6 separate regions of the Homo sapiens genome follow, and regions 2, 3, 4, 5 and 6 are each reported to be linked to region 1. The links are microRNA targets in miRTarBase. Many come from high-throughput screens and were not tested one by one. Region 1 holds a microRNA gene; each other region holds the end of a gene's coding sequence.

Region 1 (5,088 bases):
GGCAGCTGTCAGGGCCAGCATGTCCAACAGGAAAGGAACCCCAATGCTTTGGCTTCCTACCTTCTGGAGGAGACTCTGTGGCCTCTTCTTCATGCTTCCTGTACTGAGAACAATTAATAGAACCATGGACTGGGCAAGGTGGCTCACACCTAGAATTCCAGTGCTTTGGGAAGCCATGGTGGGAGGATCGCTTGAAGCCAGGATTTCAGGACCAGTGTGGGCAACAAAGTGAGACCCCATTTCTACAAAAAAAAAAAAAAAAAAAAAGCCACGTACCTGTAGTCCTAGTACTCAGGAGGCTGAGGTGGGAAGATGGCTTGAGCCCAGGAGTTCTATACTACATTGAGCTATGATGGCACCACTGCACTCCAGCCTGGCCAAGAGTATGAGACCCTCTCTCTTAAAAAAAAAAAAAAAAAACAAACAAAAACAGAACCATGAGCTGAAGTGCCCTTTGCTTTCATTTTGGAGCTCATACCTATTTCCCTGATCACAGGTTCTCAACGTAACCATCTATGGATTTGTATGCAAGAATGTTCTTGTCTGTATTTTCCTGAGAATAGTTACAGTTTTCAAAGATCCCCCACAAAGGGCCAATAGCCCCAACAAAGAAAAGGAAAAACTAAAAACCAGTGCTTTAAGAGAAAAAACACATCCTATTGAAATGGCTGAGGCTCCGGTATCTTTATACTGACAGAGGGAGCTAATATTTAGCCCACTGAAACCATTCCTGTCCTGTCCTGTCCTGCCTTACACTCAGTTACACAAGGCACAGCGTTGCCCTTCCTAAAAAGAAGAAGATACTGTTGGTCACAGTCAGCCCACTCTTCTACCCGTGGCTTGGTAGAAAGAGTAGTAGGTGACAGCTTCTGACCAGGGGCGGTATTACTGTGCTCAGTATTTCTCCTTTCCTGAGTCAGGATAAATAATTAGGAATGAACTTCAGAGCCAGTAACCCAATGTTCCAGTGGCACTCTGTCTCTCCCTGACTGATGAGAGGCTTGGTCAGCTGCCTGAGTTTCTCAGAACCCTCCCAAGGCCAGCACCCAGCTGGGCCACTTACCTGACCCCCTTGCTCGAGGAGTGACAGGCCCGTTGGATTTCTCTTCCAGGTCTTTCAGTTTGCAGTCAAAGAATCACTTATCCTGAAGCTGCCAACAGATGAGCTCATGAACCCCTCACAGAAGAAGAAAAGAAAGCACAGGCAAGAAGGGTTGGACAAAGTGTTTTGTTTTACAGCCAGGCTGTTCCCTGTGCTCTGACCTCCCCTTGGAGTTCCCATCTGCCTCCCTCTTTAGCAACCGCACAGGCTGTGTGAGCCCATCAGCTTGGCATCACATGACTGAGAGCCAGCCTCCTGAGTGCTCCCTGAGGGTCTGTGCCTTAGATCAGCCCTCTTCTTGTCCCCCAGTGCTGTGGACCATAACTGTCTGTTTTTCTATTTAAGCTTCTGGCCAATAGGACATGAGCTGGCCTCATGGCTCCACCCTGAAGCCATTTCTCCTTGTTGGTTTTGTTACCACCTTACCCATTTCTCAACTCTGATCAGAGTTTATTTATTTGTTTGGTTTGTGTTGTTTTTCTGAGTTACATGATAGCCTTTACTTAGGTTGGAAGTTTTTAAAAAAATTCTGCACCCTGGCCCTGTTCCCTAGTGACTATCACCTATCAGAGGAAGGAGCTGACACCACTTCTAGATACAGAAGGAAATCCCTGTGGCTCCTCCCTTTCAGTTCTTTCAGAGAAGATTCCTGAAAGGCCTTCCCACCTCCCCATCTTGAAACTCCCCCATATCTCCACCTCCACAAAGACAAAGGGAGAGATTTGGAGAGAAACAATAGCTTTATAATAGACCAATAGGCTTGGGCTTTCTTTTATTTCTGTGTTGTGTTCTTTTATGTTATTTGCTTGTTTGGGAGGGGTTGTGTTTAAGTTTAACTCTTGTAGCACAGGCCAGCTGGATTTAGGATGGACTCTAGCTTCTGTGTACCAAAGTCGTCCTGTTGAGGGGTTTGGGAAGATACTCCCCAGTCATCAAACACAGTCCCTCAGAGCAAGTCACGTTGTCATTTACCTGCATTTGCAGAGCTCCCTAGGGCCGTGACTGAGACCTGTCCTTCCTGTCTTTTTCAGATTGTGGGCTGCACACTGCAGGAAGATTCAGCTGAAGAAAGGTAAGTTCTACCAGGGCATTCTTCAGCAGTTCAGCTGGAGGCCTCACTCTGTGGTCATCACCCTACCCCACCTCCAGCTGCACTTGTTGACCCTGTGCCACTTCCGCAGATTGCAGAATTCTCTGCAGCAACTGAGAACAGCTGAGCCTCTCACTGCAACTGAGAAGACCTCTTAGGAGGTAACATTAAGGGCCTTGTGGTCTGTGATTTTTCTTTTTTTTGAGATGGAGCCTCGCTCTGTCACCCAGGCTGGAGTGCAGTGGCACAATCTTGGCTCACTGCAACCTCCGCCTCCCGGGTTCAAGCAATTCTCCTGCCTCAGCTTCCCAAGTAGCTGGGATTACAGGCATGTACCACCATGCCTGGCTAATTTTTGTATTTTTAGTAGAGACGGGGTTTCACCATGTTGGCCAGGCTGGTCTCGAACTCCTGACCTCAAATGATCCACCTGCCTCGGCCTCGCAAAGTGCTGGGATTACAGGCGTGAGCCACTGTGCCTGGCCAGTATGTGACTTTTCTAGTGTGCCATTTGCTAGGTTCCAGACCTCATTTAATGTTTAGAATAGCTTCCCTGTTGTCCCAGACCATCTCCACACCCTCCCCACAAAGCAGATCACCCCACTGCAGCTTATGAACAACGGTCATCCCTGTCTTCTCACTTCAGGTGCTAAATGTGTGTCCAAGGAGATTGTTAGGACCAGCCTCCTCTGAATCAGGGCAGCTGGACACTTGGGAGGGAAGACAGCTGGAGAGTATGGTCACAGCAGCATCCTCCTCTGTTTTCTTTCCTAGATAACTCTTCCACACAAGTGTACAACTACCAACCCTGCGACCACCCAGACCGCCCCTGTGACAGCACCTGCCCCTGCATCATGACTCAGAATTTCTGTGAGAAGTTCTGCCAGTGCAACCCAGACTGTAAGTGTGCTACGTTTTCTGTATAGTCTACCAAAACAGTTGGCTCCAGTGTGCCCTAGGCTTGCCCCATTCCTGTGCCCTTTACTGCTTATGGCCTTCTGATATCCCCTTTGCTGTGTTTTAGGGATTCTACAAATGAAATAAGTGCATGAGATCTGGGAGAGTCGTTTCTGGAAAACGTTTAGGTTCATGATTCTAAAAGCAGCAATTACACAGAAATCAGATACTTTCCCAACTTTGTCTTCTAGGGGAGAATTAAGAAATGTGGGGGGCAGCAGGCGCAGTCACTCACGCCTGTAATCCCAGCACTTTGGGTAGGCGGATCACTTGAGGTCAGGAGTTCAAGACCAGCGTGGCCAACTTGGCGAAACCTCATCTCTACTAAAAATAAAAAAATTAGGCCAGGTGTGGTGGCTCACGCCTATAATCCCAGCACTTGGAAGGCCAAGTCGGGCAGATCACTTAAGGTCAGGACTCAAGACCAGCCTGGCCAACATGGTGAACCCCGTCTCTACTAAGAATACAAAAATTAGCCAGACATGGTGGTACATGCTTGTAGTCCCAGCTACTTGGGAGGCTGAGGCACAAGAACTGCTTGAACCCAGAGGGCAGAGGCTGCCAGTGAGCCAAGATTGTGCCACTGCACTCCAGCCTGGGCAACAGAGCAAGACTCTGTCTCAAAAAGAAAAGAAATGTGGGACTCTTTTTTTTTTTTTTAAGTTACAGCCCCAGTTTCCCTTTTCTGAATACTGTTTTAAAAAATTTTTTATTCAGATATTTTTTGTTTGTGATTCTGTGTATGTCTATTTTCATTTCATAGCTGGAGTTTTAATATCAGGTAGAAGACAGGGGCCTGGATGTCAGCAGAGACATCCGGGTACTTATCTTTTACTTCTTATCCCACCATGCCCTTCCCAACTCAAAGCTGAGCAGTTTGATGGCAGTCCCCACAGCTTGCAGAACTTGGTGCCCAGGCGGTTTTGCTGGAGGAAATACCTCCTAACCCATAGCAGATAGTGATCTTAGCCGCAGCAGAGAAGTGGTTGCGCTGGGTTGGGCAGTGGGTGGAGAAGGATGGCATAGAACGGATGCATTCTGTTCTCAAAATGATACTTGTTTTGATGGTGACAATTTACCAGTGAAACACACTGATTTCATATTCTCTGGGGTACTCTCCACCTCAGTGGGAGGGAGAGGATTGTTGGGGAATCTCTAGGGGACACTTCTTATTAGTATACCTGCTTTTTTTTTCATTTTTTAAATTTTTTTGAGACAGGATCTCAGCTCTGTTGCTCAGGCTGGAGAGAAGTGGCACAATTATGGCTCACTGCAGCCTCAACCTCCCTGGCTCAAGCCATTCATCCCCCTACATCCATCAAGCCTGGGACTACAGGCAGGTGTCACCACACATGGCTATTTTTTTTTTTAATTTTTTTGTGGAGACAGGATCTCCCTATGTTGCCCAGCCTGGTTTTGAACTCCTGGGCTCAGGTGATTCTCCTGCCTTGGCCTCCCAAAGTGCTAGGATTACAGGCATGAGCCACCATGCTTGACCACACCTGCTTTTTTGACTCGAAGGCATGAATGTTGGGAAGCACTCAGTTTTCTATGGACAAAACTTGTGTATTTGATTATTGGGAAGGGAGCTTCCTCTTATTTTGCCAAACATCCTTGAACACAAAAAATTTACTTCTTTGCTGTCCCTTGAGTCAACCACAAGCCCCAGTATTAGCTTATTTCCCTTCTAAGACTTACCTGTCTTCCCTTCCCAGGTCAGAATCGTTTCCCTGGCTGTCGCTGTAAGACCCAGTGCAATACCAAGCAATGTCCTTGCTATCTGGCAGTGCGAGAATGTGACCCTGACCTGTGTCTCACCTGTGGGGCCTCAGAGCACTGGGACTGCAAGGTGGTTTCCTGTAAAAACTGCAGCATCCAGCGTGGACTTAAGAAGGTGAGGCCTTTCCTCAGGACCCCACACCACATAAAATGGAGGGGG
Region 2 (5,088 bases), not on the chromosome of region 1:
GTGCTGCGTACCAGCCGTGGGAGTGCCAGCGGCGCCATGGCAGGGACCACAGCCAGGTCCTCCAGAGCCGTGTGGATGTTTCCAGAAGCCTGCAGAGTTTTCCCAGGGAAGGGCTGATGGAAACCCTCATTGGGGCCCGGCTGTGCGTGCGGGGTGCAGGCGTGTTTGTCGTGGTTGGAAACCCTGTGACTGCTCCAGCTGCAGATTCCCGCCCGTGCTCCCTCCTTAGAAAAGGCTTTGGGATAAACGTCGGCATGGCGACCCCTGGCAGCTGGCCGCCATCTGGTGGCATTGCCTTTCCCACCAGTCTCATTGAGGCTTCTGGTGTGCAGTTTTCACTTTGGCCAGACAGAGGCTATCGTTACTAACATGTGAGAAGTCTTCAGTCTGTCCCAAACCAGGGGACGGTTTCCATCGTTGACGTCGCTGGGCCCCTGTAACTCACCCAGTCCAGACACCCTCAGCCTTCCCCTCATGCGGCTCCCTCCACGCAGGCGTTCACAACATGCACACTGAAGATCCCTGGGGGCTGCCCTGGTATGGGTCAGCTCCCCACTCCCCAGTCTCCTGCCTGCCCCTCCCTGCCTTCTCCCCCGCCATACCTGCCCTGAGTCCAGCATTCAGAAATTAGACCCCCACCAGCTACCAGCCAAACCGGGAGCCATCCTCACTTTGCTAATCTACGTCCGTCCCACATGCAGAAGACTGGAAAAGGCCATTTAAGGAAGAACCACTTTGAACAGCAGGTATTTTAGAAGGGAAGTCTACCAGGCACAGTGGCTCATGTGCTTTGGGATGCCGAGGTGGGCGGATCACTTGAGGCCAGGAGCTCGAGACCAGTCTAGCCAGCATAGTGAAACCCATCTCTACCACAAATGCAAAAATGAGCCAGGTGCAGTGACGCACACCTGTAGAACGAGCCACTTGGGAGGCTGAGACATGAGAATCGCTTGAGCCTGGAAAGCGGAGGTTGTAGTGAGCCGAGACTGTGGCACCGCACTCCAACCCAGGTGACAGAGCCAGAGTATGTCTCAAAAAAAAAGTTTGCTGGGAATTTACTCTAGAAAAAGAAACTAAAAATTATTTAAAGTTTCATATTCAAGAAACTTAGGTAATCATCTATGGGCATACTACCCCGAGCACACCCAGTCTCTCTGATCTTGGCAGATAAGCAGGGCCTGGTTAGGACTTGGAGTGGAGGCTGCCTGGGAATACCAAGGGCTGTAGACTTGGTTATCATTGCTGTACGCTCTTAAAGAATTAGTCACACACTGAGTTTGTGGCTTAACTTTTCAAAATCCTTGACTTCAGATTTGACTTAAGCAGCATAATCAGGTTTTCTTTCCTTTTGGGTTTTGTTTGTTTTTTTGCAGAAGGATTTGAAGACTCTGGGTCACTGGTTTCTTGTGATCCATTGAAAACTGCTCGTGGTCTCCCATCCACTTCCCCCTTTAGACCAGGTAGTCTGTCCAGATCTTCACATGAGTGCGACTCACGTCTATGACGTGAGCGATGGGAGTGGCCGTGGGCTGCGCAGGGCATTGGGGCCAGCTGATGTGTGGTCATTCCACTTTGTGATGAGCTTTGCTGCCCAGCAAACCTGCGCCTGCTCTGAGCATTGCCTCAGTGCCAGGCGTGCTGGCGCTGCTCCCACCTCCAAGCTTTCCCACTTTACAGAGGAGCCGGGGCCCTAAGCAGAACAAAGGCTTAGCCCTGCAGCGCTGCCCCATCCCTGGAGGCCCAGCGTTGGGGCTGTGGCGTGGGCGCCCTGTGTAGCTGACTTAGAGCATCCCGGACTGCTTCCTCGCCAGCCTTGCTCCCGTCTGAGGTCAAACGTGAGCGTGCCTGGTATTTGTTTTTGAAGTTGGCGCGTCCCTGGCTTATCAAACTATTTCTAGACAGTGGTGTATGGTTGCTGTGGCTGTTGTCTCCACAACCATTGGTCAGCCTTGCCGTCCTGGTCAGGGATTTGGAAAGGGCCCAGGCCACTGGCGGAAGTCCTCTGAGCAGGCAGCCGGTGCGATGCGGGCAGAGGCGTCAGCCACGGGGAGACAGGACACTGTGCAAAGGGTTCTGGTGACACCATCGTTTCTCACACTGCACAAGTTTCCTTTTTTTTTTTTCTTATTAGATGGTGTCTTGCTCTGTGGCCCAGGCTGGAGTGCAGTGGAGCGATCTCGGCTCACTGCAAGCTCCGCCTTCCGGGTTCAAGCGATTCTCCTGCCTCAGCCTCCTGAGTAGCTGGGATTACAGGCGCCTGCCACACCTGGCTAATTTTTGTATTTTTAGTAGAGACGAGGTTTCAGCATGTTGGTCAGGCTGGTCTTGAACTCCCGACCTCATGATCCACCTGCCTGGGCCTCCTGAAGTGCTGGGATTACAGGCGTGGCCACCGCGCCCGGCCGAAGTTCCACGCTTTTAACACACTCACAACTAGTCCTTTTAAAAAAACAGTAAAATTTTATTTATTATGCAATCATTTCCAAAGTAGACAGAGAAATAGATCAGATATCCCAACTGTATTGACTACAGAAAATAGTCACAACCACTTCATAGAAATTGTACTGTTTTTCCTAAATTAACAGCATATCTGGGTACACACAACATGTTTGAATATTTTAATCCCTGGCCAGGCATGCTAGCTCACGCCTGTAATCCCAGCACTTGGGGAGGCCGAGGTGGGTAGATCACGAGGTCAGGAGTTCGAGACCAGCCTGGCCAACACGGTGAAACCCCATCTCTACTAAAAATAAAAAATTAGCCAGGCATGGTGGTGGGCGCCTATAATCCCAGCTACTTGGGAGGCTGAGGCAGGAGAATCGTTTGAACCCAGGAGGCAGAGGTTGCAGTGAGCCGAGATCGCGCCACTGCACTCCAGCCTGGGTGACAGAGCGAGACTCCGTCTCCAAAAAAAAAAAAACAAAAAAAAAACCACACATTTAATCCCTAAGCATAAAAGATTAACTGGAGGCAAACTAAGATTGAGCTGTCAATCTGAAGTATTTTACTCAATAAGGGTAACCCCCTATTGGGCTGTCACTAGCGTGTCACCTCAGCCGAGACCAGCATGAAGGTCAAAGGCGAAGCCACCTCTGTAGACCCACCTCACCTGCCCCTCCCCCATCCAGTCACCTGTGCAGCTGGCTAGTCCCTCGGCCCCTAAAGACCTAATCAAGTTGGTGAGTTCAGACCCAACATCATCAGGAAATCTGTAAATTTGGAGAAACTTGTTTTCAAAGCAAAAACCCAGATGAAGAAAAAAAAATTTTTTAGGCCAGGCACGATGGCTCACACCTTTAATCCCAGCACTTTGGGAGGCCAAGGTGGGTGAATCACCTGAGGTTGGGAGTTCGAGACCAGCCTGAACAATTCTATATTGGTTTCTCCATGAAACCCTGTCTTTACTAAAAATACAAAAAATTAGCCAGGTATGGTGGTGGGCGACTGTAATCCCAGCTACTCGGGAGCTGAGGCAGGAGAATCACTTGAACCCAGGAGGCAGAGGTTGCGGTGAGCCGAGATCGCACCACTGCACTCCAGCCTGGGCAACAAGAGTGAAACTCCGTTTCAAAAGAAAAAATTGCTTTAAGTCTCCCTCGCTTGCCCAGGCTGGAGTGCAGTGACACAATCACAGCTCACTGCAGCCTCCAGCTCCCGGGCCCAAGTGATCCACCCACCTCAGCCTCCCAAGTAGCTGGGACTCTAGATGCCCACGACACACCCAGCTAAGTTCTGTATTTTTAGTAGAGACAGGGTCTCGCTATGTTGCCTTGTCCAGGCTGGTCTTGAACTCCTGAGCTCAAGTGATCCTCCCACCCTGGCCTCCTGAGTAGCTGGGAATACAGGTGTGAGCCACTGTGCCCAGCCAGAAAATCTTTAATTGACAAATATTTAAGGGACAAGAGGGTTTTAAGAAATTAAAAGGATGTATGAAGTGAAGTGAGTTGTGAACAGAACCTGGGTGCCCTCCTCATCCACGTGCCTCAGTCGCCCTCGTGCCTGACCGGCTTTGCCAATGGAGCCTGGACCCTCAGCACGGGTCAGCTGTGGGTGCGAACATGGTGGTCTGGGTCAGGCCTCTTTCAAGTCCCCACAACAGGCCTGACTTGTGCGTGAGACGCTTTCACCTTAAACCCCACGCCATCCTGGGGGTTCATGGTCAGGTATAAAACCCTGCAGAGAAGTCAGGCTGTCTGATCCCAACTCTCCCCTTCTCAGCCTGGTCACAAGTCAGTTCCCAGATGCAGCATTGCAGGTTTCTACTTTCCGCCGGTCTCCTTGGGAACAAAACGTTAAGTGTGTGCGGCCTGTGCAGGGAGGACAGAGGGAAGGAGAGGCCGGAGCCCTCAGGATCGAGTGATCTTGTCGGGAGGCATGAACCCCGTGTCCCCGAGGGTCCTGAGCGCAACTCGGCCGTTGGGTCGGATCACCAGGTGGGTGATGCTGCCATTATTGAGGGAGAGCCGGAGCCAGCCTTCAGGAGGAAACTGCAGTGCTCTGGGGAGAGAGAGAGAGAGAGAAAGAGCACGTTAGAGCCAGGGGGCTCTGTCCTTAAAACGGGCTGAGCTAGGCCGGGCATGGTGGCTCACACCTGTAATCCCAGCACTTTGGGAGGCCAGGCGGGTGGATCACAAGGTCAGGAGATCGAGACCATCCCAGCTAACACGGTGAAACCCCATCTCTACTAAAAATACAAAAAATTAGCTGGGCGTGATAGCAGGCACCTGTAGTCCCAGCTACTTGGGAGGCTGAGGCAGAAGAATGGCGTGAACCCGGGAGGCGGAGCTTGCAGTGAGCTGAGATCGCGCCACTGCACTCCAGCCTGGGTGACAGAGCGAGATTCTGTCTAAAAAAAAAAAAACGGGCTGGGCTAGAGCCAGGGGACTCTGTCCTTAAAAGAGGCTGGGCCAGGCTGTGCCAGGGGGCTCTGTTCTACAAACAGAGGCTGAGCCCCTCAGAAGTCTCAGAGCAGCCTCAGGGCCGGGGTACACATCAGCCGAGCCGCTCCTGTCTTCAGTCGGGGCTTCTCGGGGAAGATCTGGCTGGGATCGACGTGAATCGATGACTGGGATCGACATGAATGGAGCC
Region 3 (5,000 bases), not on the chromosome of region 1:
TGCTAATGACAATTGCCATGATGATGCCGTAGATGGCCACAGCCTCACAGAAGATGATGCTGGTAGTGGTAGAGATTAGGGGTAAGGAGTGGAAAGGAGAAAGAAATGAGAAAGAAACCGTCCTTCCTGCCCAGTAAGTCCCCAGCAATCTTTCCCCTATAACATCCCATCCCACAAGGTGGCTTGTCAGAAACAGTATGTCAGATCAAACACACAGGCAGCGCCAACACAGCTGGTTCTGACAAAAGTCCAAGGACCCTGACACTTACCTGACCAGGTTCTTGGTCTTGATCCTGGGGGCCTTCACTCCTCCACCAATGATGGAGGAGCCGGTAATATAGATGCCCCTGGTGGAAGGATAAAAAACTGATGAGCAGAGCCCAAGCTGTCACTGCCCTCAGCATGCCTAAGACCCCAGTGACACCACCTGCCATGACTCAGCCCCTGCCCCCAGTCCCACCACCCCAATACTCACCAGGCTGCCCCAACCACAGACAGGGAGATAGCTAGGCCAATGCCCAGGTTGGACCACATGAAGGGCGAAGTCTCCGTCAGGAACCTGTTGTGGAAGCAGAGAAGAAAGCAGTTCAGCTCTAGCAGGGAAGCGGAGCACAAAATCTTAACCCCTCAAACCCCCTTCAACCCCACCACCAGTTCTACAGGCAACAACTGACCGCGTATTTCCCAAAGGTCCATGTCCCAGGCAGGCAGTGGTGTGGGGGAGGGACTCAGACCAGAGAAAAGAAGAGAGGCTGCAGGGAAGAAGCTTCAAGGGGAATCCTCCCCCTGCCCTCCCTTACCATGCCACATCAAAGCGGAAGCCCAAATCAAAAATGGTGTAGCAGACTCCTGCAGCAGTGAGGGAGAAAAAGGGGGTTACGGGCTGCTCGGTAGAGAGAAGTTCTTCAACCTAAAGTAGCTGCCGAGCTGAAGGGCCACCTCCCTGAAGGGGCGTCCTCAGGCTGCCCCCAGGTGACAGTACAGCTGTGTAGACAGATTCCTCTGCTTAGGCCTCCATTTTCTGCCATTCCCTCGCTAAAACCACCTCCCAGACCAAGCACCTGCGCAGGCAGGGTCGCCACCCGCAAGCCCGAATCCGAGGCGGGACCGAGGGAGCAAGCGCTCCAGCCAGATCCCGCCGGCCCAGTCCGTTCCGCTGTTTACCCAACAAGCTGTGGGTGGGGGAGGGCAAAGCGACTGGGAAAAGAGGAACCGGAGCAGCCGGCTTGTGACCGAGCGGGCCGGTCAGGAGCAAGAAAGGGGGGACAGCAGTGAGACGTGGGAGCGAGGGGAGACAGCGATAGTGGCAGGACGGGGGAGTGCTGCCCTCGCGGCCCCTACCCGCCCGCACCCCTCCTCAAGCAGCTGGAAATCCGGGTCTCCTTTGTCGGAGTCAGAGGCCCTCGCAGGCGCAAGTCCCCAGAGCCTCGGGTGCAGAGCGCGCGGGGGGCCAGTATTCCCCGCAGGCCACTTCCCCGCCGAGTTCCGACCCGGCCAGCTCGGCCGCGATGCTGCTCCCGCCCGCCAGGACCCGGCCTCACCCACGGCCAGCGCGCAGGCCCAGAAGGCCACGAAGACCCCGGAGTAGAGCAGTGCTAGCCCCGTCATGGCGGCGACGGCGGCGGGGGTCGGAACGGCGGGGCCGGAGCTACAAACGCGTCCCAGCGTCCACCGTCCGTCCCGCAGTCTGTCCGCCCGCCCCGCAGCGTCACCTAACTCGCCCACGTGATGCGCCGGTACCACGTGACCCCACGCCGGTTCCCCGCGCAGCGCCGCCGCCCGTCTAGAGCAAGGCGACGCTGGAACCGCAGGCGCTGGGGATTGTGGTAGTTGTAGTCACGCGTCTCGGCGGAGGCTTGGGCGCCCTCCTCTCTAGGAACTTCGACATCTGGCCGGTCCTTCTCGAGTCTCTCCACCTCGCCCTGCCAGCCCTGTTTTATTCCCGAGCCTGCTCGCGGGCCCCTAAGGCGTCCTCTCTGGCAGCCGTGCGTCCTAGCCTGTGGCGGGTGGCGCCGCGCGTGCCCTCTGCCTCACCTTGCTCACGGCGTCTCTCCGCCCCAGTGCGCCTGTTGGCGCTCGCTCCGCTGCCTGGCTAACACCTGCTGTCCTCCGAAATCGTCCTTCCGGCAAGCCTTCCCTAACCCAGTGGCAGGGAAGCGCGTTTGCTGGGCTCCCGCGATGTCCTGGTGATGCTTATTAAGCTTCAGTAAGATGTCACTACCCTGTCGAAATGCCCTGATGGCTCCCATTTCATTCAGGAGAAAAGCCAAAGTTCTCACAATAGCCTGCTAGGCTCCCCACGCCCCTCAGCTGACTTCACCTTCTAATATTCCCCCACTAACTCCCTCCTCTGGCTGCACTGCCCTCCTTGCTATTTCTTTGAACGTGCCAACCATACCGCGACCTCACTGCCCTTGCACTTGCTCTCTCTGCTTCTCCTAACTATACATGCGGCTCATCCTGTAACTTCCTTTCAGTTTTTGCTCACCTTCTTGAAAAGGCCTTCTCTGACCATTCTGTTTAATATTCCACCCCACTTAAACGCTCCTCTGCTTCCCAGCTTTACATTTCTCACGGTACTTACTGATCACCATTTGGCATACTAAGTATTTTATTTGTCCAACTCCCCTGGAAGAGTGGAAGCACCATGGCTTTTGTGTCGCTCACTGCTGTATTTCCAGTACCTGGCACAGAGTGTGTCCTCAGTACATATTTGTAGAACACATGACTGATGCCCACTTTGTCTGGGTTACCTTGTTAGCTTACAGCTCTGCCTCCACCATTAGACTAGGCATTCCCTGAGGGCAGGGACCACATCTCCTTTGTTCACCTTCAATACCCTCGACAATGCCACTGTGACCAGATTCTCAACAAATGTGGGGAAGAAGAGGCGAGTCTTTTCATTTCACCCCTCTCCACCTTTAGGGCCCAGCAACCCCACTTGCTTGAAGCATCCGCCATGTTGGTTCATGTTTAAGCCCAAAGGTCTTTTTCACTCCTTTTCTCCTGACAATTATTTTTTCCTCCAAAAGATCCAGCATAGGTGTTATGCCCTCTGGGAAGCCTCCTCTTAGTCCTTGTCAGGTATCTCCTGTGGGATCCAGCTGTCCCTGGGGCTTCCCTCCTCCCAGATAGAGCTGTTTCACTGTGTACTGACTGCGTATTTAACTCTCTTTCCAGGTACACTGGAAAGGAATCTGGTTAAATACAGTTAACATCTACATCCCAGGACCAGTGCAGGACCTGCAGTATTTCATGAATTAAAAAGAAACACAAAGAGAAAAGGTATCTGGTTTATTTAGGTTGCTGTGATCTCCCTGAGAAATAAGAGTCAGTATAGACCAACGCTGTCCAACCAATAGAACTTTCTGCCATGATGGCATATCCTGTAGCTGCACTGTCCCCTCATGTGGCTGTCTGAACACTTGAATGACTAATGTGACTGAGAAACTGAGCTTTTAATCTTAATTAACTTAAATTTAAGTTTAGCCACATGTATTTAGTGGCTACTGTACTGGACAGTGCAGGTCTAGCTAGACCAGTGGTTCTCAATTGAGGGCAATTTTCCCCCACAGATAACATTTGCCAAGGTCTGGAGATATTTTTGGTTGTCACAACTGGGGGAGTGCTTCTGATGTCTAGTGGGCAGAGGCCAGGGATGCTGCTGAGCACCCTACCATACACCAGACAGCCCCACAACAAAGAATTATCTGGCCCCAAATGTCAAGTACGAGTTTGAGAAACCCTGGTCTAGACTGTCTAGCACCTGCCTTTTGACAAGGACAGACCCTCAACTGCAGCCTGGGAACTGGGATTGGCCAAAGGTCCTGGGCTGCCCTCAGGAAGACAGATGGGTCCAGAGGCCTCAGGGAAGTCCCTAAGCCCTTTATTCCATCAGCCAAACAACACGCATTACTGGGCATGTGCTGAGCTTGTGCCAGTGCCAGGACAGGACAGAGACGGATCCTATCCTGTGAAGGGCTGCCTGCTCTCCCTCCTTCCAGGGTCCTTCAAGGATCTTGGCAGGGGGATGGGAGGTTGGTGCAGGGAGCACTAAAGGTCCTAGCAGCCATTCATAAGTCCATCTATGTCTCCAGCCCCACATGGTATCAGCCGCTTCCCTCATCCTCATAGGCGATGGCAATCCCTCGTCTTCCACTCACAGCTTCTGTCACTGGCGTCTGACCCAGGCGGGGCTCCAGCCCTTGCCAGCTCCGGGAACTAAGGAATGAGGCTGTAGAGGGAGGGGGCTCAGTCTGAGTGCGCTGCATCTGGAGAAAAAGCTCAGCTGGGAGTGGAGACTTGTACATTTACCTGCAGGACTGCTCTCAGCCAGCTCCAGCTGGGGCCGTGGGGTCAGAGCCAAGCTTCCATGATCATTTGATGACTTCCAGGCAGGTGGGGGTCGGAGATCTCCAGTAATGAGTGACACGTCTGGGGTTTCCCACAGCTCTGACTCAGGTGGTGGGAGAGCCACGTGGAAGGGAGAGCCTGAAAGGGAGGAGGAAAGAAAATCCATACTCACCCCCTGACTCCGTGCCCCAGGTTTCCAGCTTAGGCAATGCCCCCACTACTCACCAGGCAATAAGTCCGCATAATGTGTGAGGTGGGGAGCCAGGCCTGGAGGTGGCCAGGCAGGGTTGCAGGCAGCTTCCAGCTCACATGGTGCCAGTATAGGCTGGAAGAAGCTACCAGAAAGCTGGGGGGCTAGAGCACCCAGAGGACAGGCTAATAGCACAAAGACATCCACCTCAGGGAAGTTGGCAAGCTTGGCAGGGGTGGGCCGCCCCAGGGCCAACACATAGCTACGCTTGCCAGCAGCCTGAGTCAGGTTCCGCAAGTGGGCCAGTGCCTCACGGTGTTGGGCTACACCCAGTGTGCCTGCCAGCAGCCCTACCACGCGGGCATCTCTGGCCCTCTCTACCAGATATCGTCTTCGTGCCCTTAGCCGTCCAGCCCGGGCACCCTCATCCTGAGTCTTCCCTGTATCTGGACAGCAG
Region 4 (5,088 bases), not on the chromosome of region 1:
TACTACATAATTTTATAACTTTACTAACACAACAAAAAAATTGTTCCTGGTTACCAAACACATTAAGAGTTTTCCATGCTATATGCCCATGTTATATCAGAAGCAGCACAGAATAGTGGTTAAGAGCATGGAACAACACAGAGGCAGGCTGCATGAGTTTGAAATCTTTATACCACAACTCATTAGTCTGAACTCTGGATAAGCTACTTAACCAATGTCATAAAGTCAGTTTCCTCATCTGTAATATAAGAATAAAAAAACCCACCTCACAGCATGGTAAAGAAGATTAACAAGTTAATCATAAAAATAAAATCTGAATAAATATGAAACTGCAAAATGAAATAAGCAAAATGAAGAAAAGGATCAGGGTGTTTAAAAATATTAATACATCCATCTAACCTCTTTACTGAACGAGGGGAAAGTGCCTCAAGTTCAGGGAGGTTTCCCTTTTCCAGACTCAATCACTGATTTTACTTTTATTAGCAAAGTTTTTAAAAAATAATTTAAACATTTAAGCAGCATCTCTGCCTAATGAAAAAGGAATGGCAAATTGAATTATTTTGACACATAATCTTTAAGAAACATAAAAATGTTTAAGGCTGGAAGTTATATTTCTTTTCAATGGACATTAAAGGTGACCCACTAAACGGAAAAACTAAGAAAAGTCATTGAGTTTTTAGTGAAAACATGGTCTTCAGAAAAACTGTTCTTAAAGATAATCTTCACAATGAAGAATTCTGTTAAAAAGTTAAAGAACATGCAGAAGAAAACCTCTGCAAGCCTGGTATTTTAGAGATAGTGCCATATGTATAAAGCCATAGGCATATACGTAACTGAAGAAGGCAAGCCATCCAACACCACCAGATTAAGTTGTTAAGATACCTGGGCAGTAGGGAAGCAGTCAGGGATAATTAACAACAACAACAAAAAACCTATCAAACAATCAAAACAAATGAAACAGAAAACCCTATTAACAAAACCTAAAAACAAGCTGGGCTTAATAGCTTGCATTTCAAAACTGAGGCCATGGAATTATACTGGTGAAAACAAAGTAAATAACAAATATGAATGCCAAGTCAAAATAATTTGCCATAAAAGATGAACAACAAAAAAAAACCCTGTTAATGTTCAAATAGATAATTTAAAAGTACCTGACTGCTAAAAACAAAATTTACAGAGTACATACCCATATATCCTAAAAGGGACACCAGCCCTCATAAATGAGCTTTTAAGAGTTTACTTGGCCGGGCGCGGTGGCTCACGCCTGTAATCCCAGCACTTTGGGAGGCCGAGGCGGGCGGATCACGAGGTCAGGAGATCGAGACCATCCCGGCTAAAACGGTGAAACCCCGTCTCTACTAAAAAAAAAAAATACAAAAAATTAGCCGGGCGTAGTGGCGGGCGCCTGTAGTCCCAGCTACTTGGGAAGCTGAGGCAGGAGAATGGCGTGAACCCGGGAGGCGGAGCTTGCAGTGAGCCGAGATCCCGCCACTGCACTCCAGCCTGGGCGACAGAGCGAGACTCCGTCTCAAAAAAAAAAAAATAAATAAATAAAAAAAATAAAAAAAAAAAAGTTTACTTACTGTGAGTATACGCATGACATAAATTTTCAGGCTGAGGAATAACTGATTAAAAAAAAAAAAAAAATTGGGAGTTCGGAGAGGGGAAATAACTCAAAGTCCCTTTAAAATATTTGCAAGAACTCTTTAAGTTTCTCTACACTTTGATGGTTGAATAATTTTCTGAAGAAAATTCTTAATTAAATCCTTGCATAAAATATAAATTAGAATAAAGTAAAATCATTACAGTCCTTTGCCAGTATAGTTACACCAAGAAGTTACATCTTCAACCTATAAACATTTGTTGATTCCTAATCATATCTTAATTGTTTATAAATTACTGGCTTAAATTATTACCAAAAAAGTAGGACAAGTCTTAAGACCTTGAAGAATTCCACTAAAAACAGATGGTAAAAATAAAATGTTCTACTTTAGTTAATAGTATTATACAAAGGTTAATTTCTTAAGTTTTATAAATGTTCTATGATAACGTAAGATTTTAACATTAAGATTAATATAAGACATAAAGAACTGTTGTATTTTTACAACTTTTCTGTAAACCTAAAACTAGGTCAAAGAAGTTAAATAAAGGCTCAGTTTATTAGGATCTTACTTCCTTTATACTAGTAAATGTGCTATGAAAGAAAAATAGCATTTTAGGTTTCCCATCTTTAGTTACCAAGTATATATATAATATACCTAACTTTGACTGCTTTGCTATAGTAATTATTTTTAATGCTAAAAAAGACAAAGCAAATTTCTAGAGAAATAAATCAATAAGCACTTTTTATTAACTTTTTTGACAAACCGATAGTAAAACATATGCTACCTAACGATAACTGTGTCCCTTTATGTATGAGTCTAAGAGAAATATTCGGATTTTTATCTGGACAAGAAATTCAAAGGCTCCTTAAGAAGAAAGTAAATACCATGGTCACTAATGTAACCAGACTAAATATAAAAGCTACATATGTATGTGTGTGTGTGTGTGTATAAATCAATGTTTTGATCAATGTAACTAATCTGAGGTTACAATAACTCACTGCTTCAAATAATATTTCAATTACATGTAACAGATTAAGATACTGTTTAGGGGAAAACAGCCTCAGAAGGAAGTATGAACAAAAAGGGATATTAATCATTACCTTTAATCAAACTAATTATCAACCTTTCCCCCAACCCATAAAGACTTCATGTCTCTAAATGGTTCCTAAATCATGGAAGATAACTTGAAAAATTTTAAATACATCTCCAGGTATCAGATGCTTATGTACTCCATGTGGGTCCAACTTTTACTGCCCAGAGTTTCTTGTCATGGTAATGTAACATCATGAAAGTCTGGTTGCCAGATCTTTATGTTTTTATTTGTAACAGAGCTAAACCTTTTAACAATTATATTAACTACAACTAAGTTATTTGCTAATGGTAGTAGAATGATACATATGTTTTATTCACGAAAATAGTACTTCTGCAAATTTTTCTTTGTAAGAATTCCATAAATACCAAGGAAAAGAAAAGACTCAAGGGGTTTGGGAAATAAACCCCTTTTAATTTTAAATCTACATAAGTTTAATTTATTCCCAAACTTTCTAAGTTCTTCCAGAGTTCTGGCCTTCAGAATATTTCCTAATTTTTCTTCTTGAGTTCTGCACTAACTCAAAACCTATCCAAACGATCTAATTCTGTATTACCTATATTTAATATAAAGTACAATATATAGTCAACATTGTATCACTAGAATTGTGAAGCTCTTCATGACTTTAAAAAAAAACTCCAAAACAATTAAGCTATTTTTATTTAACATGTAATAGTCATAAAGCAACTCCATATATTTAGTTTTCTGATATCCTAATGTATTTCCACAAACCTTTTAAGTCTACAATTTTATATAGTTTTCCATCAGGGAGGCAAGATATATATAATTTCTTTTTATATTTAACTAAAGGTTTTAAGAGGGCTTAGTCTCTAAATCAGTAACAATTAGTCATAACACCATACAAACACATTTAAATATTCAGGAAAGAGGTTGTTAAGATTATTGCTTAGTCTTATAAAATGGTGAATTTTAACCAAATTGATACCTCTGTAATCTTATTTATGTTTCCTATAACATCATACTGCTTGGCAAGTAATGTAAGTTTTGACATAATTTAAAAATTCAAGTAGTTGTAAACAAATTCTAATTTGTTAAACAATTCATATATTCCCCTTTAGTTACTATACTACCTCAGAATTAATCCTCCTTAAAAAAGTAATCATCCCACATAGAAAAAACTGCAGAGCTTCATCTCTTCCTTAAATATTTTCAAGTACTGTAAGAACACAAATCCATGAAAAAACTGATTAAAATTTGACATTTCATCTTGCTTTACTAATTATGGAATAATACAAAAACATAAAAAAAATGTTCCTTAATATTTCTTTGCTTAACAGAGAAATACAAAGAAATACTGCAATTATGGTTATGGGCTACTTTCCAGCCTCTTCAAGTATAGGACACAACTATGGTTCCTACCAGTAGGGAGAAATGAATAATCAATCTTACATAACACAAAAGAAAGATGAGAGGCACAAAAAGACAAACTGACTTTGGCTTTTAAGAACCTAATGTTAACCCTGAAATGCCACATTCAGTAACACAACAACAAAACAAAAGATTACAGCAGCAAGCCACCACTTCACACAGTATTAAAAATTCGGAAATAATGTAATAGCCTTCCTTCCATCTCCCACTCAATCTGTTGTGGCATCTTTTTGTTTTTCCTGCTTTTTAGCTGCAGGCAGTTCAAGGCTTGCCCACTGCATCGGTTCAGCTTTTCTCATAGTGATTTCAATCTTTGTTGCAGTCATAGTTACATAACTTCGCTTTACATCAATCACCTGTAACATATCAAAGAGAATTACAGGAAACCTCAGTAGTTTTATTAGTCTCAGAGGAAAACATCAGACTTGCTTATGCCAATAATCCCAAATCCAAGCTTCTAAAGGCCTCTTTTATATCTAGTCTTAAACTTTTTGGTAGGATACACTGTTAAGTTATACATCTATACTTTGCATCAATGTTTACTGAAGAATTGTCTTTTATTCTACAAATGATCTAAGTTATCAGAAAAAAAATTCTTATAAATTTGTAATACTTACACCCCATAATTTCACATTTTGATCAAATTCCTTCTCTCCTTCAAATACAATATGCACATTTAACTGAAAAAGATATACACAGTTAATTGATCTAATTCAAACTGAAGATTTATGCTATCAAACACTGATTATAAAAATAAGACTGACAAAAATGAATTAAGCTATTTTAAGAAACTGCCAATACTGTATTGTTTCATATGAGAAAAGCCACTGACAAAAAAGAATAACTGGCTTCAAGTTTCATATTGAGAACTAAGTACTATATTACTTGATAAATCTACTACAGTATCTCCAGAATGGTTCAGCAGTAAGTCTACTATACAGAAATTTTCATTTAAAATAGTTTCATAGAAGTAATTTAATTTTTTTTAATGGGAGTCATTATAAA
Region 5 (5,088 bases), not on the chromosome of region 1:
CCAACAGTGAAACTCACTTTTTGAGTATATAGTTTGATGAGCTTTAATAAATATATACTTTCTTGTAACCACAATCACAGTTGAAATGTAGAGCACTTCCCTCACCCCCCAAAACTTCCTCATGCCCCTTTTTTTTCAGTCCCCATCCTGAACACCTAGTGCCTGGCAACCACTGACTGATTTCTGTTCCTTTGATCTTGCCTTTTCCAGAATGCCATAGAAATAGAATCACAGTATTTAGCCTTTTGCATTTGACTTTTTTGACTCAGTAGTGTAGTCTCTCCATGTTGTTGCATGTATCAGTATGTTCTTTTTTATTGCTGAGTGATATTCCATTATTGTGGATGTTCCACAGTTTGTTTATCCATTCCCCAGTGGACTGATATTTGGGTAGATTTTAGCTATTATGAGTAAAGCAACTATAAACGTTTCCAAATAGATCTTTGTGTAGACGTATGTTTTCATTTCTCTTGGTTAAAAATACCTACAAGTGGGACCTTATTTTAGCTACTATGAGGGAGGTATTCTTTCTACTTATAAAGAAACTACATTTTGGGCAGCATGATAGAGCATGCTTCTAGGAGACATTTCCTTTTTGAGGGAAGTGAGTACTTAAGTTTCTTAGAAGTAATGTACTGTTTTCTGATGGATGGGTGACGGGCTCTAATCAGTTTGTCTAATGAAAGAGTTGAAAAAGAATTGCCCTTTTTTCCTTGCAGTTACAGAGGAAAGCCATGAAGAGCCAGCATTCCAGAATTTTATGCAAGAATCGATGGCACAATACTGGAAGAGAAACAATAAATAGGAGACTTTAGCACACTTCACTTGTTTCTAGAAGTCCAGAATTTTGGACCTCCACGTGAAAGAACTGTTCTTACCTCTGAACTGGGGGCTCCCATAAGGGATAATTTTCCTCAGAGTAGCAAAGTTTCTCTTATTAGAGAAATCTTGTGACTCAGATGAAGTCAGGGATAGAAGACCCTTGGACCTGGCAGGTTAATGCTGATTATTCCTTGGCCTTTCCCTTGTATTTATGCAAGGAAGGATATACTGAGCTGATACTCTTCCAAGCCTACAACTTCAAGTTTTATCATTTGAACTCAAGTACTTTTGCTGCTGAGGAATGGAATCAAAAGAACGTAGTCTCCTGGTGACCACCTCAGATCTCTATTATTAGGCTAGATGTATAGCCTCTACTCCCCCAGCTTCTTGCTCTTGACCCTGCACTGTAAGTTGCCCTTCTATTAGCAGCCAAGGAAAAGGGAAACATGAGCTTATCCAGAACGGTGGCAGAGTCTCCTTGGCAATCAACCAACGTTGCTATGAAATATGCCTCACACTGTATAGCTCATTATAGGACGTCAGGTTTGTTGAAAAAAGTGGGCAAGACATGATTAATGAATCAGAATCCTGTTTCATTGGTGACTTGGATAAAGACTTTTTAATTTTAACTTTGTTCTAAGACTGCTTGTCATGATTTCAAATTAGAAAATTATATAATTGCAAACAGCTTCACTTCTCCTGTTCAACAGAGGCTTAAGGCCAGATGTCCAAACTTGTCTCAATAAGGAGGTGATATTTTACTAAAGTTTCCCACGTGCACATACTGACTAAATACAGAGCTAGGCCCAGTTTGTATTGTACTCTGAACTTAATGCAAAGTCTCCTTGGTGATTTTCGCAAAGTCCGTGGATTTGGGTCAGAGGCACATTTCATACATAACAGCCCTTATAAACGTTTGCCCTGCCTCCACATTTTACAGTATCTTAAAACAGTACATTTCTTTCAAAGAATTTTATCTCTATGAGTCAGTACTCCAACTTAGTGGTTCTCACATTGTGGACCAGGAGCATCAGCATCATCTGGGGAATTGTTCAACTTACCTCTTATAACCTATGAACTCAGAAACCCTGGGGGTGGGCTGAGCAGTCTGTTTTAGAAAGCCCTCCATGTGATTCTGATGCATAGTAGCCTATGACATAATTCCAGACCAGGTGAATCTCAAGATACTAATCCTCACATCATTTGCCTTCTCATATTTCCCTCGTCTTGACCATCTGGTGCCTGTTATGCAGTTTAACATTCTGCAGCAATAAAAGTGTTTTATTATAAAGTATTAATTTTAATGTTCTATACTTAGTGGGAACCACTGGTCTCAAAATTTGAAGCTATTCTTTAAGAGGAGAACATTCGCAAAACTCAAGCATACTTGGTTTTTCTCTGTAGTACTTTTGAATGCTTTATCTTCCTTACAGAATAACTTGTCTTCCTTATGCTTCAAGCTCCAAAAGGGTAAGGAAGAAGTCTTAATCATTTTTGTATTCCTTGCACAGGACCTAGCAAATAATTGGTACTCAATGTTTGCTGGATGAATGAACTAAATTCCCATACGGCCACTTTATGGAAACTAACTGCCTAATCGCCACTTTCATTATAAACAAAGGAAAATGAAGATAAGACTGCAACAGAGGCCAGGTGCAGTGGCTCACGCCTGTAATCCCAGCACTTTGGGAGCCCGAGGCGGGCAGATCACTTGAGGTCAGGAGTTTTGAGACCAGCCTGGCCAACACGGTGAAACCTCATCTCTACTAAAAATGCAAAAATTAGCTGGGTGTGGTGGCATGTGCGTGTAATCCCAGCTACTCAGGTGGCTGAGGCAGGAGAATCGCTTGAACCTGGGAGGCAGAGGTTGCAGTGAGTCGAAATTGCACCATTGCACTCCAGCCTGGGTGACAGAGCAAGACTCCATCTCAAAAATAAATAAATAAATAAATAAATTAAAAAAAAGACTGTGACAGAAAGGGTTTAGAGAAATGTGCTAAAGAGTTACAATTGGCAAATTTAAAATTATATGTTAAACTATAACCTCATTTGTATCATATTCATTTATTCTCAATACCTGGGACATTTAAGGCATTCAATAATGAATTAAAGCTGTGCCTTATTTTGGTCTGCATTAAAGGAGTGGTCTAAATTTTACAAGATATATTTTGCATCAGAAAATCAAACTTCAGCAGTTTAACATGCTGGCATCCATCACCAAGGCATGAAGCAACACATTTGCTAATGATTCCTAATCACTACAGTGCTACATCATTTACTTAATAAATACTGATTCAGTACTTATATATACAGATAGTCTGATGGATGAGTAACCACAGTGATGTTGTTCAGGACATGATGTAAAGTTGAAAGGTGCATATTGCTATGTTTTAAAGGCTGCCTTTACAGTAGAAGCAGCAAAGTGTGCTTAATGGACTGCTGTCCTCTGATGACCAAGCAAATGCAACAAATGAAATATGCACAAGGCTGTCCTTGGACAGTACTTGTTTGCTTTGCTCACAAAGGAGAAAAGGAAAGAAACAATTGAAAATATGTATATGGTGAAAGTATGTGAGTCCGAGCAGAAATAACAAAGGCAAAAGGATGAGGAGAGATGGAGTAAGTCTAGAGAAGAAAATAAATGGATGAGATAGAGAGCTGTCTAAGCAAAAAAGGTGTCAGACCTCTGATCTTATAAATAAGACACTTCAAAAGTAGCAAAAACAGTTTTAAGAAGGTGACTAATAGATAAGGTGTGTTGTGTTTAGCTATTTCCTGTTAGGTATTAGTAATGGGTTCCCAATGACCTGAGCCAAAAATGAATCAAGTTAAATGAAAACTGACATCTGATATGAGCATATATTATTAGTCTATTCAAGCACAGTTTTGAAGTTAGCAAACATCTAAATCCTCACATCTCTACAAGGTAGGTCAAAGTATGATTCTTCTCAGTTGTACAAGATAAATGGCTGTATAACATGTCTAGTCATAGTTAAGACAACAATTGGGGACAGTGCTTTGGTCTGATTGCCATGCCAGCATCATATTTTATCTGTGAAGGGTGGCTTGGTTGTGGAAAACTATAAAAACTGGATGCAAAAGTAAAATGCAACCTTGTTTGGTGACGTCCAGTTCCTCTGGAATTAGGAAAAACCACTTGTGTTTAAGAACAGGAGTCAAATCAATTTTTAAGGAAACAGATTCTAATACAAAAACCTTTTCTGTTGGGTCTAGTAGGTCTGGACAAAACATCTCCCTCTTTTCCTTTTATATTTTCCTCATCCTCTTCTTGCAGCGCTGGTTGAAAACAGGGGAGGACCCCATGAGGCTGTCAGTGGAGTGGGAACCATAGCTGCTATCTGAGTCATCAGGGCTCTGAGGAATCCCAGCTTCACTCATGCCTGACATAGGCTCCTCGAAGACATCACTGCCCAGCACACCATGCCCAGAGACATTGCCTTCTTCACTTTCTTGAGGCTCCATTTTCACATGGGCCAGATTCCAAAGAGGAGAAGCATTTACCTCTGCACCTAGAAACAGAGGAAAGATGGACATACACCAAGTGTATATGTGTAGCCAAGTGTAGAACAAAGAGTAAATATATCACTCAGAACCAACTAATATGCTTTGAGCTCAGTTTTCACTCTGATTCTGTACTTGGCTGGAGAATATGGTTGTTACTCTCTGCTTCAAAAAGTTAACCATCCCAAAAAATTACCAGCTCTGATTATCTTCTTTTCCATTTCTTCTACCTTTCTTTCCTCTACCTCACCCACCCCCATTTCCCCTAAACCAGGGAAGTGAAACTAGGCAGGTGGAAAGATCCCCTGTCTCACAGCCCAAAGACATGCACAACCACAGGACTTGTTCAGTTGTTTAGTTTGCCTGTCCTTCCTTCCTTCTTTTATGGGGCCATCTTGTTTTCCTGCCTTTTGTTTGGGTCTCTGGTCATCTCTTGCATTATGAAAAGTTAATGGTCACTACATAATGCTAACAGCAGTTCTCTACCTGGTCTTCTTTGAAGAGACATGGTCCCGAAGTCCGCAACAATTTCTCTTTGGCCCTCGCATCTCTCTATGTATTCTAGCAATGCTGTTCTCTTATGGTTATTCTTCCATAGTGAAAGGCTCTCTGCCCAACACTTTTAAAAGTATGACCTAATTCCATTTAGACCACATTTGAGGATTTGCTATTTGAGTCATTTGTGCATTGATGACAATTTATACTTGTAAACAACTGAGTGTCCAGACTAATTTGCAACCTAAC
Region 6 (5,088 bases), not on the chromosome of region 1:
TCCATCTCTAAAAATATGAAATTTAGCCGGGCATGGTGGTGCGCACCTGTAACCCCAGCTACTTGGGAGGCTGAGACATGAGAATCACTCAAACCCAGGAGACAGAGGTTGCACTGAGCCAAGATCACGCCACTTACACTCCAACCTGGGTGACAGAGTAAGGCTCTGTCTCAAAAAATAAAAAAAAAGAATGGGTTTTGGGGGCAGGATTTTTAAATATTCTAAAGCCCAGGCCACGCCCCAGTCTAATTAAACCACAATCTGGGGTGTTGGTGGGGGATGGTGGACACATTGGGGAAGCTCCCCAATGATACCAATGGTGTAGATAAGTTTGGGCCCCACCACTACACATGCTCTTACATATTGCAAGTTAGGACACTGCTGCATGGAACATGCTTCAGCAGTGTCCTTCAACCAGACCTAATGATATAATACATTGTACCTTCAATCACTATGCCAGAGTAGTTCTACAAAACGAATCCATATGGGTAGGCAGAATGAACTTAAAGTTAACTGTACAACTGAACAAAAATTCACAATTACAAAACCTCTTAATTACAACACATTCTCAAGTCCTAAACTACGAATGTTTCAGGTCCACGTGTCCCATAACTATATATATATAGTTTTATATATATATAGTCTTATATATAGTTTTACATAGTTTTATAGTTTTTATATAGTTATATATGTAGTTATATAGTTATATATATATAGTTATACAGTTATATATATCAAGAGTCTCGCTGTCACCCAGGCTGGAGTGCAGTGGTACAATCATGGCTTATGGCCTCCGCCTCCCAGGTTCAAGCAATTCTCCTGTCTCAGCCTCCCAAGTAGCTGGGATCAGAGGCATGCACCACCACACCCAGCTAATTTTTGTATTTTTAGTACAGACTGGGTCAGATGGGGTTTCACCATGTTGGCCAGGGTGGTCTTGAACTCCTGACCTCAGGTGATCCTCCCGCCTCAGCCTCCCAAAGTGCTGGGATTACAGGCGTGAGCCACCATGCCCAGCCCCATAGTTAAATATTAAAACAATCACAGCTGTCCTCTGAGTCCCATCGTTTTAAGTGCAAGCATTCAGCCCTGCCTAAAGAAAGGAAATATTAAGTAGCAAAACAAAAACCAGAATCTGAAGCATCTCTGCGGCATCTGGAGGCTTTCACGGATTTTTCTATTGCTTGATATGTCCTGTCGTTCCCCTAACAGCCAAATAACTTTTATAACCTCAGGAAACTTAACTATCTAAAAGTTAAAATATCCAACTCTTAGTGATAATCATTTAAAAGCCCTAGTAACACATCCCTTATTGTGTAAGCCAAAATAAAAATCTCACTTTATAGAAATATTTCACAAGTGTGTATCCTTTCTACCCTAGTTATCATTTTTTTTTTATTTTGAGACGTAGTCTCACTCTGTTGCCCAGGCTGGAGCACAATGGCACGATCTCAACTCACTGCAACCTCCGACTCCTGGGTTCAAGCGATTCTCCTGCCTCAATATCCTATGAGTAGCTGGAATTACAGGTGTATGCCCCCACGCCCGGCTAATTTTTGTATTTTTTTTTTTTTAAGTAGAGACAGGGTTTCACCACGTTGGCCCAGGCTGGTCTCTAACTCCTGACCTCAGGTGATCTGCTGACCTTGGCCTCCCAAAGTCCTGGGATTACAGGTATGAGCTACCGCACCCAGTCTACCCTCATCATCTAGATTCAACTTAGTTTGCATGATTATGGAGCATGTATTTAGACTCCAGTATCAGATTAGGGATGATGACGGATGGGGTGTTAAAACAAGTTATTTAACAGATTCCTAAATTTAAAAGGTTTATATAACCACATTCTAACAGTATACATAAACACTAGCAAAAAAGGACAAAGTATTTTGGGGGAACCAGATCCTTTAACATACTGAATTCTGTTAATATAAATCTGATTAAGTCAAGCTGATTTTAGATTAACAATTTCAATAGAAATTATCTGCAGAAATATTCTAATCCTTATACTAAAATCAAGCAAATAGTTTTTGAAATGCTATTTTAAGTCATTACCTTAAGAATTTTGCTCATTAATTACATTTTATACCAAAATAAAATGAGAGGGGGGTGGAGAATTAGTGACAGGGACTTAAAAGGAACCAAGAAATTCGGGGGAATAATAGATTATGTTCACTTAGTTGTAGGTCAAAACACTGTAAACTGTATGTTTTACCTGTGTGTTCAAGTCAATTTATACCTCAATAAAGTGTTAAAAATAAAAAAGCTGCCAAAAAAATGAGTTTGAAACAGCCATATTTGCTTTTCAGACTTCCATGGCCTAGTTCTGAGTTCAGCAATTCCACATTAGATCTATAACTAGTTTCTGTGCTTGTAGGCTCTCTTTAAAACAATATGGTCCAAGCTGTTTTATCAGCTGCCCATTATTTAGACACCAAGCTAAAACTATGTTACACTTTTAACTGTTCTCTTAAATTACATGTATGGCTCCAACCCCTCATAACCAAGCTTATTAATGTCATTAACTTAATGCATAGAATAACCATACCACTGTACTTTACCATATTTATAAGGAGTAAATTACTAAACACATTCCATATCACAATGCATGAAAGCACAATAAACATGAGTTAACTGCTGGTAAATGGGAATTAAGGCAGAAAAAACTGAGTATAAGAAAGATGCCAAAAACCAAAACTACAGAATCTTTTCTGAAAGTAGAAAACACAGTAAGGTGGATCTCAAATGTAAACCACATTCCTCAGGTTCCTTCTAGCTTGTTTTTGGAAATACAGGTTGTATCTGATAAATTTCATTAATCTATTAAGCAAATAGTACAATCTAAGAGTCTCAAAGACATTCAATATGTGTTACCGATAGCTTCGTCAAAGCATGCTTTACATTCTCCTGTGGCTAATTCTAACTACATTTAACTTTAGCTGATTAGATTGAATTGTGACAAATTATATAGTGAAACCTTATTTTAAGTATAAGGTCTATTTAATATTTTATTACCATTCTAACTCTTCCTCAAGTTTTGTGGGAGTGTGCTAGTGTGTTGTTTTTAATTTCCCCATCACCATCAGTCTCAGTGGGAACAACAACAAAAAAAAATAACAGTTTCTGGTGAAAACTGGGGAGTCCAGGTAGGGTATTTATGCAGAAATAGCAAAAACACTGCAGCCATCTGAGAAAACACTTTTTAAAAAACAACAAACACTTAAGATTAGATCTGACATAAAACCTCAAGTATTTTTGCTCTAAGATTATGCTCTTTACATAAGTTAGAATATATTTAAACATAAGGGGGAGCTAAAAGCAAATGGGGGTAAACAAACCAGAAAAATCAAAATACAAATATACACAGAGCCAAAATAGTATTTCCGTCAGCAGCAAAACAGAAACAATTCCAAAATTAATGTGCAAATGAAAATAAAGTAGTTAACAGTCATTCATTTAATAAGCTTGTGTATTTGATAATGAAAACGCTTAGCTTTCCTTTTCTGACCTCGGAAAAGTAATCACCATCTTTAGTAAGGTATTACTTTTAAAAGTATGACTTTAACAAGTGAATAAAGCATGTTTAGAGTATGTTTATGTTTAGAAACAATACCTTGAACACTACAGAAAACAACAATATTCTGAAAATCCAGTTTATTTTCCATGTCGTGGACAGATCCAGTCAGTGTGATCAGTTTTTCTGCGTGTGTAATAATTTATCAAAATAAGTTTTCTCACAAGACTCTTTTCCATCAACTCTGAAAACCCTGGTCTGACAACATACCCCAATAAAGCTTTTGAAAATCACCTCTTAAAATTTGGAAGAAAATGTGCCAAGTCTTTTCCTGTAACATTTACTGCACTACAAATGGCTAAAGAGCAATTTATGGTTTAAAAGGTGAATAGTACAACAGGTGAGTTCAGGAAATTGTTTTAGTGCACTTTGCTCCAGTTTTAGCCAACATGCTACATTTTCCTTTTTGGTTTTTGTTTTGTTGTTGTTGTTTTTTGGGGGAAGGAGAGGGAGACCGCACAAAGTGGACTTGAGGATTTCCATTGTACGAAAAAGATATGACTCTGCAAGCAAAACAGTGTAAGCTGCCTTTTTTCTTAAGACCTGGACATTTTAAGACAGAAGCTTTGCAAAACATTACACAATTTTTTATTATTAAATGAGAAAATCTCATTTGTTACATCGTCACATTGCTAGTCAGAGAAATGTTGCAGTGATGAAGAAAGTCAATGTTGGACCAACCCAAGTCCTCATTCCTACAACATTCATTTACAAAGAAATAATGTTCAACACAGCCCAACAAAACATTCTTGGTTTTCTTCATATTGAAGTCCCCCAAAAAATCCTCTTCTAATGGGGTATTTCACTACATAAATTATAGTTCTTCATTTTTACAATTCACCCCAAACTGTATGAGAGATGTATCACACTAAGATTTCTAAAGCTGTTAGGAAATCCTTCACACATCGTCGTCATCTGATGTATCACTGCTACTTGTCTCTGTGTCATCATTCTCAGTTGTGGGTTTGAAAGTGCTGTTCTTCCACGGTCCAAACTTGAAGTCACAGATCAAGCCATTTTTCAAAATACCATTTTTTCTCAGACCATTCTTCTGTAACTAAAATGTTAACAGCAAAATAAATAAATTATCCCTCAAGAGTTACAAACCTACTGTAATAATATAAGCATGAATATAATAAAATTGTATCCTAACCCAAAAACTACACAAGTAATGATATTTCTGAAAAAATTCTGGATCCAGACAAAGTAGATGTGAGTAATAATTGTCACACTGATTAAGGTACTAAACTTTCCCACATTTTTATTGCCTCAAGTGACAACTGTAATAAATACCTTCAGGGACTTACCAGAATATAATCAGAAACCATTAAGCTGTATCTGTTATTTTTATTATTCTGACCTAAATTAATACACCCCCCAATCTGCTTTGTTCATAGTTTGTAAAGTAGAATGAGGTATATAAAGTTACAAAATTGTCTCGTTTAACCGGAGATGAAGATACTAGAAAAAATACAGTTCTCTATTTCTGAAAATGAGAAATCATAACTAAAAGGTTG

The links. The annotated mature microRNA hsa-miR-6780a-5p reads UUGGGAGGGAAGACAGCUGGAGA and lies in region 1 at 2,904-2,926, shown strand. An mRNA with a match to its seed (bases 2 to 7 or 8) in the 3' UTR can be bound and repressed. Matches are read on the target gene's strand: a 7mer-m8 pairs with bases 2 to 8, a 7mer-A1 pairs with bases 2 to 7 and ends in A, and an 8mer does both.
Region 2: miRTarBase lists PGAM5 as a target of hsa-miR-6780a-5p. Seed matches in the 3' UTR shown: 7mer-A1 at 3,343-3,349, 8mer at 3,311-3,318 and 8mer at 2,798-2,805.
Region 3: the mRNA of DPH2 is a reported target of hsa-miR-6780a-5p. Seed matches in the 3' UTR shown: 7mer-m8 at 4,032-4,038.
Region 4: the mRNA of CHORDC1 is a reported target of hsa-miR-6780a-5p. The part of its 3' UTR that is shown has no 7-base or 8-base seed match.
Region 5: the mRNA of SUPT7L is a reported target of hsa-miR-6780a-5p. Seed matches in the 3' UTR shown: 7mer-m8 at 2,677-2,683 and 7mer-A1 at 2,508-2,514.
Region 6: the mRNA of GPBP1 is a reported target of hsa-miR-6780a-5p. The part of its 3' UTR that is shown has no 7-base or 8-base seed match.

What each region holds. Positions count from the first base shown.
Region 1 is chr17:42,705,962-42,711,049 of GRCh38, reverse strand. It overlaps MIR6780A (microRNA 6780a), which reads left to right and starts at 2,899; the gene lies at 2,899-2,966. It overlaps EZH1 (enhancer of zeste 1 polycomb repressive complex 2 subunit), which reads left to right. Exons shown (of 21, transcript NM_001991.5): 13 at 1,113-1,204; 14 at 2,134-2,174; 15 at 2,967-3,092; 16 at 4,865-5,043.
Region 2 is chr12:132,720,087-132,725,174 of GRCh38, reverse strand. PGAM5 (PGAM family member 5, mitochondrial serine/threonine protein phosphatase) reads right to left here. Exons shown (of 6, transcript NM_001170543.2): 6 at 2,441-4,497. The coding sequence ends at 4,347. It also overlaps the pseudogene RNA5SP379. Among named protein-coding and RNA genes, the nearest start is that of PGAM5, 12 kb to the right of the region's middle.
Region 3 is chr1:43,971,649-43,976,648 of GRCh38, reverse strand. It overlaps DPH2 (diphthamide biosynthesis 2), which reads right to left. Exons shown (of 6, transcript NM_001384.5): 4 at 4,579-5,000; 5 at 4,315-4,491; 6 at 3,280-4,234. The coding sequence ends at 4,110. ATP6V0B (ATPase H+ transporting V0 subunit b) reads right to left here and starts at 1,689. Exons shown (of 8, transcript NM_004047.5): 1 at 1,542-1,689; 2 at 801-849; 3 at 476-559; 4 at 270-347; 5 at 1-59. The coding sequence starts at 1,608. LOC124904167 (a long non-coding RNA gene) reads left to right here and starts at 1,784. Exons shown (of 2, transcript XR_007066053.1): 1 at 1,784-2,206; 2 at 2,762-3,284. RefSeq lists silencers at 1,151-1,200, 1,601-1,650 and enhancers at 870-1,702, 1,901-1,950, 2,001-2,120, 1,703-2,536, 3,767-4,966 and 1 more.
Region 4 is chr11:90,198,113-90,203,200 of GRCh38, forward strand. It overlaps CHORDC1 (cysteine and histidine rich domain containing 1), which reads right to left. Exons shown (of 11, transcript NM_012124.3): 10 at 4,701-4,763; 11 at 2,317-4,439. The coding sequence ends at 4,293. Among named protein-coding and RNA genes, the nearest start is that of CHORDC1, 22 kb to the right of the region's middle.
Region 5 is chr2:27,649,396-27,654,483 of GRCh38, forward strand. It overlaps SUPT7L (SPT7 like, STAGA complex subunit gamma), which reads right to left. Exons shown (of 6, transcript NM_014860.3): 6 at 1,414-4,352. The coding sequence ends at 4,090. It overlaps GPN1 (GPN-loop GTPase 1), which reads left to right. Exons shown (of 14, transcript NM_007266.4): 14 at 720-2,116. The coding sequence ends at 805. Among named protein-coding and RNA genes, the nearest start is that of SUPT7L, 12 kb to the right of the region's middle. RefSeq lists an enhancer at 3,212-4,411.
Region 6 is chr5:57,262,134-57,267,221 of GRCh38, reverse strand. It overlaps GPBP1 (GC-rich promoter binding protein 1), which reads right to left. Exons shown (of 12, transcript NM_022913.4): 12 at 2,549-4,628. The coding sequence ends at 4,470. Among named protein-coding and RNA genes, the nearest start is that of GPBP1, 91 kb to the right of the region's middle.